Linked DNA regions of Homo sapiens. The protein of the gene in region 2 interacts with the protein of the main gene of each other region in a biochemical or structural test. Each region holds a gene or a part of one and is shown on either strand. Other genes may lie near its edges.

What was found.
Region 1: the proteins of RPA1 (region 2) and PRPF19 form a complex in vitro, tested with the Homo sapiens proteins (2 studies listed by BioGRID, with this or other methods).
Region 3: the proteins of RPA1 (region 2) and RAD51 form a complex in vitro, tested with the Homo sapiens proteins (2 studies listed by BioGRID).

The regions. Positions count from the first base shown.
Region 1 is NC_000011.10:60,889,921-60,893,342, forward strand, and holds the end of PRPF19 (pre-mRNA-processing factor 19), read right to left. Parts: intron 1,344-3,422; coding exon 1,246-1,343; 3' UTR 627-1,245; downstream 1-626. UniProt on the Homo sapiens protein: Ubiquitin-protein ligase which is a core component of several complexes mainly involved pre-mRNA splicing and DNA repair. Required for pre-mRNA splicing as component of the spliceosome.
Region 2 is NC_000017.11:1,878,384-1,882,035, reverse strand, and holds part of RPA1 (replication protein A 70 kDa DNA-binding subunit), read right to left. Parts: intron 3,044-3,652; coding exon 2,975-3,043; intron 2,822-2,974; coding exon 2,629-2,821; intron 2,477-2,628; coding exon 2,337-2,476; intron 1,494-2,336; coding exon 1,345-1,493; intron 1-1,344. UniProt on the Homo sapiens protein: As part of the heterotrimeric replication protein A complex (RPA/RP-A), binds and stabilizes single-stranded DNA intermediates that form during DNA replication or upon DNA stress.
Region 3 is NC_000015.10:40,708,640-40,712,291, reverse strand, and holds part of RAD51 (DNA repair protein RAD51 homolog 1), read right to left. Parts: intron 3,268-3,652; coding exon 3,176-3,267; intron 1-3,175.

The DNA.
Region 1 (3,422 bases), on a different chromosome or scaffold from region 2:
TCCCACACTTCCTCACCTCATATCCTCTTACCCCACTCCAGGGAGGCAGCCAGCCCCGACCTTCCACTGGGATGGCCCTTGTCAGGGGACTGTCAATCACCCCAGACTGTACACCATGGTTCCCCCGACTTTGCCACCATGACCTCCTTCCTGTTCCTCCATATATCTCGCTCAGTCCAGCCCTAGAACCTGCTCTCTGCCTGCCAACACTCCTCCCCTCTCAGGTCCCTCTCATTCCAGCTTCAGCTTCATCACCACCACTTCAGAGGCCTTTCCTGACCTGCAATCTAAAGCAGTCACGTGACCCTACAGGAATTCCCTATAAGGCACATTCATTATCAGATCTTTGTCCCGAAACCAGTCCTACCACAGCTTTTCAATCGCCAGAGTCAATAAAAAAATCTCCTTTTTGACTTATGCCAGCTGAGGACAGGCTAGAAAGCCTACAACTAAAGAACCCTGATGGAGATGCTCAGACCTCCCCACCAGCAAGATCCAGCTAATCTTCCCTGCAGGTCTCCCTCCCTTCCAGGCTTGTGTAGGAAACCAAGTCTACAAGGCAAGTGGCAGGACTAGTGACTTGAGGCCTTTAGACACAAGGTCAAGAACCGCAGGGACATGGCAAATTTCATCTGCAGATTTGTTTTTATTTCTGCTGTGCAATTAAAAAAAAAAAAAAAGGGTAAGAGCTGTGAAAGGAAAGGAAGATGGGCTTCCCGGAAGCCAGTGTCCCAGTGTGTGCTCCCTCCCCTTGACCTTCCCAGTCCCAGGTGCTCCTGGTGCAGACAGACACGGGGAGGTGGTTATGGTTATTGTTTTCTTTTTTTAATGAAACTAGATCACTGCTTACAAAACCCTGCACAAGCCCTCCTGCCCATCCCCTTCACAGTTCCCTTGGCTCAGCCTCTCCTGTCTCACAGGAACTGCAACAAAATGGGTGTGGAACAGCCACCACCACGTCCATTGAACGACAGGAAGGGAGAGGCCCTGGGCTCCGACCCTGGGCCTTAAGAGGGTGACAGTTCTTCCTTCCACATCCGTTCCCATGGGGCCTGGAGTTGCATGGATGAGGGTGGTCCATGCCACCATGGTTCTCAGGCCACCACTCAGACCAGAGTGAAATGATGTGAATGTCCCACCCCACAGAGCCCCCTCCCCCCATAGATTCCCCCCACCCCCCCCCCCAAACCCTAATTCTACCCCTCTACTGAGATGAGGCCCAGCTTCCATCAGAAGGGCCAGGGCCTACAGGCTGTAGAACTTGAGGCTTCTGTCCATGCCTGTTGAAGCGATGAACTTGGCGTGATGCCCGAAGGCCACCCCTGTGGTCAGGCCGCTATGCTCTGAGGAGAAAGATAAGAGGCAACTGTGAGAAGGCTTTTCCTCCTTTAGTCTGAACACTGATCCCTAATAACAGATTCCCAAACAACCAGGCCTTCTCTAATTAGTATTTATCACACCGCAGGCTCCTGTTTGTTTTCCCTAGGCTGACCTGCACACTACCCCCAGTGCCTCCCTCAGTGCCTGGCATTTTTCACTGGTGGGATGAATGAATAAAGCAATGCCAGCCCCCCCTTCTCACCTGAGCTTTCTGGGCAACTGCAGTTCGGCTAGGTTTAGTTGAAAAACCTCAGAGCTCAGCTTGTTTATGCCTAGTGCTCACTACTTGCTCGTAAGTGGAACAGTCCATCAGCATTTTCTAGCTCATAGTGTTCCAACCCCAGGGCACTCAGGCCCCTAACACAGAGCAGGACCAGATAAGAGGCAGATGAGGCTGGGCAACATTCCTCATGGGACTCCAGAAATTCATGAACATCTGGCCAAATTCCTTCTAGATTTAGGATCACACCTGGAGTCAACCAACTCCCCATTAAAAAGCTCACGCTGTATTTTCAGCTACCTAACTCGGTTCTAAATCAAAACACCAGGTACAGTACAGGGTGAAAACCGGTGAGCCATATTGTTAGGATGGACACCTTTGTTATACAAACACACTGAGCAGGGCTCAGGAGAATACGGGGCAAGAAGAAATATCTTGTATCCTGCTCACAACCTGCTAATGAGGACGAGAATTTCATCAACACACACAGCAGTAGCTCCCATTCATGTAGCATCTTAAGTGAGCATCAGGCACCCTGTTACCAGCATATTAGCATGCCATCTCCACAACACCAGCTGTCACACCCTGCAAAGCTGTGCCAATATTCCCATTTTCTAGATGAAGGAGTTCAAGATCTGAAAGGGAAAGTCACGTACCCAGGGCCACATAACTGTTAGGTTAGAAACCCTGTTACCCATTCTCTCAGCATCTCATGCTTTTCTTCTCTAGCACTTATAATTGCAATTAAATGTGTACATGTGAAATTAATCTACATCTGCCTTACTAACCTGACTATAAATTACATCAGTGCCCAAATCGGGTCTGTTTTATTCACTGCTCTATCCCACCACAGACTAAGACCCAATGCTGAGTGAGAACAACTGCAAATCCTGACTACGTGCCAGACACCGTTCTGACCTATGTATTCACAGACGGTCCCCGATTTACCATGGTTCAACTTGCAATATTTTCAGCTTATGATGCACTTATCAGGATGTGGCTCCATCGTATATCAAGGAGCACCTGTATGTATTTTCATCTAAACCTCAACAACCCCACTGAGTCTATAGTTACCATTCCCACTTTTCTGAGAGGTTAAGTAATATTGGATCTCAGAAAACAATACCCCAAAGTATGGTGGTTTGGCACGCTGAGGGCTTTGAACCAAGGTCTCTCTGACCATGTCCTGCCCTCCTGTCTCTTGCCCCTCTTTCTCTAAGGGCAGGTCATCTGAAAGGAACATCATGAATCCCCTTCCTGGGAATCTCAACCAGGGAAAATGAACTGGTCTCACAAGAGAGAAGACTAGATGCCAGTCTTTGTCACAGACTGTCATGCATTATTTATCTAAGGTCTGCTCTGAGACAACTTTTATTACCTGAGAGACTCTGTAGTGCACTTCCTCCCCATCCCCCCACATAACTTGTGTCACCACCACCCCCTAGAAGCCTTAGGCCCCTACTCCCTTCTGCAGTTCAGGATGCCATAGAGTCATGTGTCACATAATGACATGTCAGCGACGGACCACACAAACACTGGTCCCATAAGATTACAGTGGAGCTGAAAAATTCCTATCACCAAGTGATGTCATAACCATCATCATGTCACAATGCAATGCATTATTCACGTTTGTGGGGATACAGGTATAAACAAATCTACTACACTGCCAGTTGTATAAAAGTATAATATAGCTAGGCGCGGTGGCTCACGCCTGTAATCCCAGCACTTTGGGAGGCCGAGGTGGGCAGATCACGAGGTCAGGAGTTTGAGATCAGCCTGGCCAACATAGTGAAACCTCATCTCTACTACAAATACAAGTACA
Region 2 (3,652 bases):
CCTTCTCCTGTCAGGTAAGCGGCTAAATCCCTCACAGGGGCACAGCAAGGCCCATCCATCTGTTTCACCACTACTAGCTACACAAGTTCACGGTTTCAAAAGCTCCAAGGAGACATTTGCCACCAAAGATCACTCGTCAGGAGTCAAGGCGGCCCTTCTTACAATAAAAACTCTGCATTGTTATAGCCAAGATCTAAACATCTCTAATCCTTGTCCAGGTATCATGTATGCACTGAGCTTGTCTTTGATCAATGCCAAGTTATTTTATTCTGGGGACAGCCGTGCTTTTTATGTTGACTGGGATCATGATTATTGACAAGTAAAAGATGAAGACATTAATGTGGGAATGCAATTTTAATGTGGGAATGCGATTTTAATGTGGGAATGCAATTAACCTGGAGTCGAACTCCAGAGCCTAAAAGAAAATCAAGCAATAAGAAAAAAGCAAATCTGTGGCTAGTTCTGGTCAGACTATGAACGGGCCCTGCAGTTCGGCAGATACGTGTGGACCGTACTACTCATGAGGATGGCTCAGTGACATGAACATTCCAGAAGATGCTTCATGAAACTGGTCAAACACCAGTGCCATTGGTTTAAATGACTCAAAACAAAGGAGGAGTATGTAAAATGAGCTCATTCTTTAGCTGCTTAAATCCTAAGACACAGCTGGAAACTGACACACTTCCCCCCCATAGACTACAGCTATGGGAATTATTGAAGCTTGGGTGAAAGTGTTTTCCCTGACCACATCAATTCTTGCATCCTGTGTCTCAGTTTGAAGTACTCTTTTAAGACAGAGTTTGAATGTCCTAAAAAGCTAGATACAGTGAGGAGATTTTAACAGGCTCTCCTCATCCCTTGAGTGCTTTGGGAATAACAATCTAATCCTAACAAAAAGCCCATTGTTCTCACCACACTTGATCAGAGTCTAGTGAATACACACTAGAAGATGTGATCGGCACCAAAGACTTGACAGAGAAAGAAAGCATGTGTTCCCCCACGCCACAGAGGCCCAGAGCCTAAACCCTGGAAAGAAAGGCGCCTTCAGCACACCGCTGCTGAAGCCTGGCCGTCCCCTCCTTTGGCAGGATCGAGGTCAGCAGGCAGCACTTACATGCTAATTGCCTCCTCCGACTCTCTAGGTTTGTCCTGGGATTACAGGTTTGTCCGTTTAAGGGCTTTAAAGCCCTCCTCACAGAAGGCATAATGCCTTCAAGAAACACGGAAGCTGCACCACTCAGGGACGAAGGCTTCTGCTTGGCAGAAAGCTCCCATGCTGATTGTAACCAGCTTTTCTCAAAGCCCAGCCTCAAGTAACCCTTTGTTTAGCCCCACAAAACCTACCATCCACGAAGCTTATAGGCCTCTGGGATGTCAGGATTCGCAATGATAGTGCTTGAAGACAGCACGGAGAGGCTCCGTCCACCGAAATCAGAGACTCGGGCTCCTTTGATAGCCAACACGGGCTGTCTAGAACCATCAAATTTATCAGCCTGTAAAAGAAACACCAGACATATACAAGTGTCACTAGCAGGAAGAACACAGAAGATTTTTATAGAAAACAAGGCAAACATTCAATAGTAGAGTGAATGTAATCAGCGTACATGGAATCCATACAAGACAGACCTCACACATGAGAATCTACTCAGAGACACATCAAAACTATCACTGCTTTCCTAGAGTTAGGGGAAAGAGCATTTCCCCGCGTAAAGCTTGAATCACAGCAAATCTCACAGAAGTAAGATAAAGGATTTTAAATACTTACCAGACAGCACAATCCTTCCCATCTACATGGTGAAAGCCCCCAACTCATAGGACAAAACCGCCCCCACGAGGAGCTCCTCCTGTGTGTGCTAACAGCCCCATCCTATAGGACAAGACGCCCCCTCCGCCAACCCCAGGAGCTCCTCCTGTGTGTGCTGAAGGCCCCATCCTATAGGACAAGACCCCTCCCTCCCCCAACCCCAGGAGCTCCTCCTGTGTGTGCTGAAGGCCCCATCCTATAGGAACAGACGCCCCCTCCGCCAGCTCCAGGAGCTCCTCCTGTGTGTGCTGAAGGCCCCATCCTATAGGACAAGACCCCTCCCTCCCTCAACTCCAGGAGCTCCTCCTGTGTGTGCTGAAGGCCCCATCCTATAGGACAAGATGCCCCCTCCGCCAACTCCTGGAGCTCCTCCTGTGTGTGCTGAAGGCCCCATCCTATAGGATAAGACCACTCCCTCCCCCAACTCCAGGAGCTCCTCCTGTGTGTGCTGAAGGCCCCATCCTATAGGACAAGACCACGCCCCAACCCCAGGAGGTCCTGTGCGTGTTGAAGACCCCATCCCAGCACTTACATCTTCCCCCCACAGTGTAGCAGTCACCACCTTCCCGGATGTGTCCATCAAGTAGATATTCCTCTTGGCAACTTCTCTGTTGTTAGACCTCACTGTGATTTTAGTGGCGTCTTCATAGCTCTTGCAGATCCCGATGATGTCTAAAACACATGCACGTGTTAGCAGGAGGTGGTCAAGACTCCCATTCCGACGCCAGCAAATGATGAACGGCAAGCACTGAAGCCTGACACCACCCCGTACACTGCAAAGAAAGCTAGTCATCCCTGCTCTTCCTTCTCATACACGAGCTTACCTACAAGTGAGTCTTTCGACTTGTTCTCGAGGTCATCAATCCCCGTGAAATCAAACTGAACCGTAGGTAAATGATGGTCGTCCTCACAGGGCATGACGGAAGTCTCGTTATTGAAGGTCATCTCGTAGTCATTTTTAACAGCTGTGAACTGCTTGTTAGCAATCTTCAGGGTGCCTTTCGAGAAATAATACACCTGCGAAGGAGGCCAAGCCACAGAACCTGAGACTACCATCAAATCGGACAGAAACCCCTAGTCTGCCACCACACACCCCTCCCCTGGGCCAGCGTCTTTTCATCCGCACTCCACCCCCAGGCGGTGTCAGTTCTAAAGTCAGCACGGCCATACCTTGTTCACTTCAATAAGAGGAAAGAACTTGTCCACTTGCTCATTGAAAGCTGTAGCTCGGATTTCACCCTGCAGAAGCACGTGGGCAGGTTAGGGCTGCGGGATTGAACACAGGCCACCCCAGCACCCAAGTGACACTGGGATAGAACACAGGCCACCCTAGCACCAAAGTGACATCTTGAGAGCAGTGGCCCTTGCACAAACAGGGTCCAGAGAGGGCTACGGACATCCCAGGAACCCGCATTTTACAGTCACACACTGAAGTCACTGGCCCCGCTGAAGAATGAGAATTTCAGCTAGCCGATCCCATAATCATGCTGCATTAGCCTCAACTGAGAAACAGAACAGAACAAAACGGCAATGACGAGTTTAATTTATTCTGACAATAAAAACAAAAAAAGTTGAATACTGAGGGACACGCCCAGAGCCCACGAGGAAGGTGCTGCCACGGGGTGATTCACCGGCTCCCTCCACAGTGCCCTCTCAGTGACAAACCACTTCACATTCGGAGCCATTGCCAAAAATGTCAGAGTAAGTCATGTTTGCAAGTTGCTTGTGATCTGATTTTCACTTTTGCTTTTCTGTCAGCCAAAATTTACAAGTGGACAAGAAATTTTAGCCAACCACCATACATTAGAGCAATAATTTCTAAAAAAAAATTAGGTTCTAATATTGATT
Region 3 (3,652 bases), on a different chromosome or scaffold from region 2:
CTTTTTAGGTTTACTAAGTTACTGTAATACATTGTTGGGCTGAGGTGTATTTTTTATTGTCAGTCATCAAGCGCTGCCCTTTACAACATCTTTTCCCTACTTCTCTTTATTGTCACTATCTTAGTTTCCTGACCAGCTAATGCTTACTCTTCATAAAATCAAGTTTAAACTTCTTAACCTTCTGAAATAGGATCTTAATTTTTTTTTTTTTTTTGAGATGGAGACAAAATCTTGCTCTGTTGCCCAGGCTGGAGAGCAGTGGTACAATCTTGGCTCATGGCAACCTTGGCCTCCTGGGCTCAAGCGATTCTCCCGCCTCCACCTCCCAAGTAGCTGCCACTACAGGCACAGCCCACGTCTGGCTAATTTTTATATTATTTGTAGAGATAGGGTCTTGCCATGTTGCCCAGGCTGGTCTCAAACTCCTGAGCTCAAGCGATCCACCCACCGTGGCCTCCCAAAGTGCTGGGATTACAGGTGTGAGCTATCATGCCCAGTTTGATGTATCTTTTTAAGGGTCATCTCCTACAACTTTTCTACACAAACTCTAAACCAGTTAAATGACCTTGCTTATTTATTGTCTTTTCCTTCTAACTTATGCCTTCCCATCCTCTGTTCATCCCATTCTATACAGTTAAATGCTTTTAATTTCCTTCCTTCCCAAATTTAGCATTCTTCAGAAGTCTGGTCCAAAATCTTTTCTCCATAAAGTATTCCATGATCACTCTAGGGTGAAATTACCCCTTTCTATTCCTTAAACAGCTAACCCATTTCCTCTGTGACATTCATTTTATATATCAGGCATGTTTTTGGACATCTATTATCTCCACTCATTCAAGCATTTATTGTTTACTGAGAGCCAAACACTGCCTTAGGCACTAGCAATACAGCAGAAAACATGCAGTGGCACGATCCCAGTCACTGGAGCCTCGACCTCTTGGGCTCAAGAGATTCTACCACCTCAGCCTCCTGAGTAGCTAGGACCACAGGTACACATCATCATGCTGGGCTAATATTTTTAATTGTCTGTTTTTGTTTGTTTGTTTTTAGAAATGGCATCTCAGAAACAGGGTCTCACTATGTTGCCCAGGCTGGTCTCAAATTCCTGGTCTCAAGCAATCCTCCCACTTTGGCTTCCCAAAGTACTGGGATTACAGGCATGAAACACCATGCTGGCCTCTTATGAAGTTTTAAGAACATCATCTCTGAAGTCTGGTTTGAGTCCAGTATTTGCTACTTAAATACAATGTATTGGGCAATTATTTAACCTACTGTGTCTATTTCCAAATCTTCCCACCAATAGGAGCATAAGTAAAGGAAAAAGAAACTGAAGGGGTCCAGGGAAGGTTTTTTCCTAATGGAGGAGACACTAGACATATTTGTATACTGATGAGGATAATCTCATAGAGAGGTACAAGAGAAAATGGAAGGAGTAGAGTCCTTGAGAAGGTGGCAGGAGATGGTAACCAAATCATATTGATAGAATGGGCCTTTGAGAAGAAAAGGGACACTTTCTCAATTGTAACCTGAGATAAGAAAAGATGGGCACAAATGTAGATTTGATGCAAAGAGCAGGTTAGGTTTTTGGCTAAGAATGAGAGTTGAAGAGGAGCATAAAGTTCTGATAACAGAAGACGAAGTATGAGATATGAGATGCCTGTCTAACTCAGTGGGAAAGTACACCTAAATGGAGAAAGTAGACTGCCAAGAAGTTTTGAATGTTAATCTAAAGTTTTGTCATCTTGAATTTTTTTCCTTTTTTCATTCTTTTTTTTTTTTTTTTTTTTTTTGAGACAGAGTCTCGCTTCTTTGACCAGGCTGGAATGCAATGGTGCGATCTCAGCTCCCTGCAACCTCTGCCCCCCGGGTTCAAGCGATTCTCCTGCCTCAGTCTCCCAAGTAACTGGGATTACAGGCACGTGCCAACACGCCCAGCTAATTTTTGTATTTTTAGTAGAGACAGGGTTTCACCATGTTGGCCAGGCTGGTCTTGAACTCCTGATCTTTTTTTTTTCTTCTTCTTTTTTTTTTTTTTTTTTTTTTTTTTTTTGAGACAGAGTCTCGCTCTGTCGCCCAGGCTGGAGTGCAGTGGCGCAATCTCGGCTCACTGCAAGCTGTGCCTCCCGGGTTCACGCCATTCTCCTGCCTCAGCCTCCCAAGTAGCTGGGACTACAGGCACCCGCCACCACGCCCAACTAATTTTTTGTATTTTTAGTAGAGATGGGGTTTCACTGTGTTAGCCAGGATGGTCTCAATCTCCTGACCTTGTGATCCGCCCACCTCGGCCTCCCAAAGTGCTGGGATTACAGGCGTGAGTCACCGCGCCCAGCCAAACTCTTGATCTCAAGTGATCCACCCGCCTCGGCCTCCCAAAGTACTGGGATTACAGGCGTGAGCCACCGTGCCTGGCCTGTCATCTTGAATTTAAAGTGAAGTCAGTCAGCTGTATGATACGATTTTTCTCCAGTATAATCAGCTATTTGGGTACAGACACTGAGAAGATAGATGAGTTTCATCTAAGGTTGGCATCTCTTCAAGTGGGTATGTAAACTGAGGCTATCTGCAAGAGAATTACTTTAATGATGAATCATAAAATCTAGACTAATGAAGAAGATGGAGGGCTGGGCGCAGTGGCTTACGCCTATAATTCCAGCACTTGGGAGGCCAAGGTGGGTGGATCACTTGAGATCAGGAGTTCAAGAGGAGCCTGGCCAACATGGTGAAACCCCCTCTCTACTAAAAACACAAAAATTAGCCGGGCATGCTGGTGGGCGCCTGTAATCCCAGGTACTCGGGAGGTTGATGAAGGAGAATCACTTGAACCAGAGAGGAGGTTGCAGTGAGCTGAGATCACACCACTGTACTTCAGCCTGGGCGACACAGCGAGATTCTGCCTCAAAAAAAAAAAAAAAAAAAAAAAGTAGCAAGTAAAGCCAGGAAAAGGCCTGGTAGCAAAAGTATTTGAAATTAACGTATCTGATAGGAGATCAATGATTTGGAAGTTTCTATGACATGGAAGGATTTTGAAGTAGGAGTCTATCTTCTAACTATTAACAGCTATAAGATTCTTGAGGACAGAGAAAGTACCTTTTATGGCCATCCTAACAGATGCTTGCAAATAGCAGGAATGAAGTAATGCTTGCTTATTTGATTAGCTATAGCCCCAACAGCTCACCTGGCAGGTGACAGCTAGCGTATGACAGATCTGGGTCTTCCCAGTTCGGAATTCTCCAAACATTTCTGTGATAGATCCAGTCTCAATTCCACCTAAAAAAGCGATAAGAAATAACTCTTAGCATAATACAAACATGTAGAAACTGTAGTCATAGAAATGTTCTTGGAGCTCATCAGAAAGATGTTTATGTAAGTTAAAAATTCAATTTCCAACAAGCGATAATTTTTCACAAATGTATTTTGAGGCTAGCCGTGGTGGCTCATGCCTGTAATCCCAGCACTTTAGGAAGCTTAGGTGGGTGGATTGCTTGAGTTCAGGAGTTCGAGACCAGCCTGGGCAACATGGTGAAGCCCTGTCTCTACAAAAATTAGCCGGGCATGGTGGCGGATGCCTGTAGTACCAGCTACTCAGGAGCTAAGGTGAGAGGATCACTTGAGCCTGGGAGGCAGAAGTTGCAGTGAGCCAAAATCGTGCCAG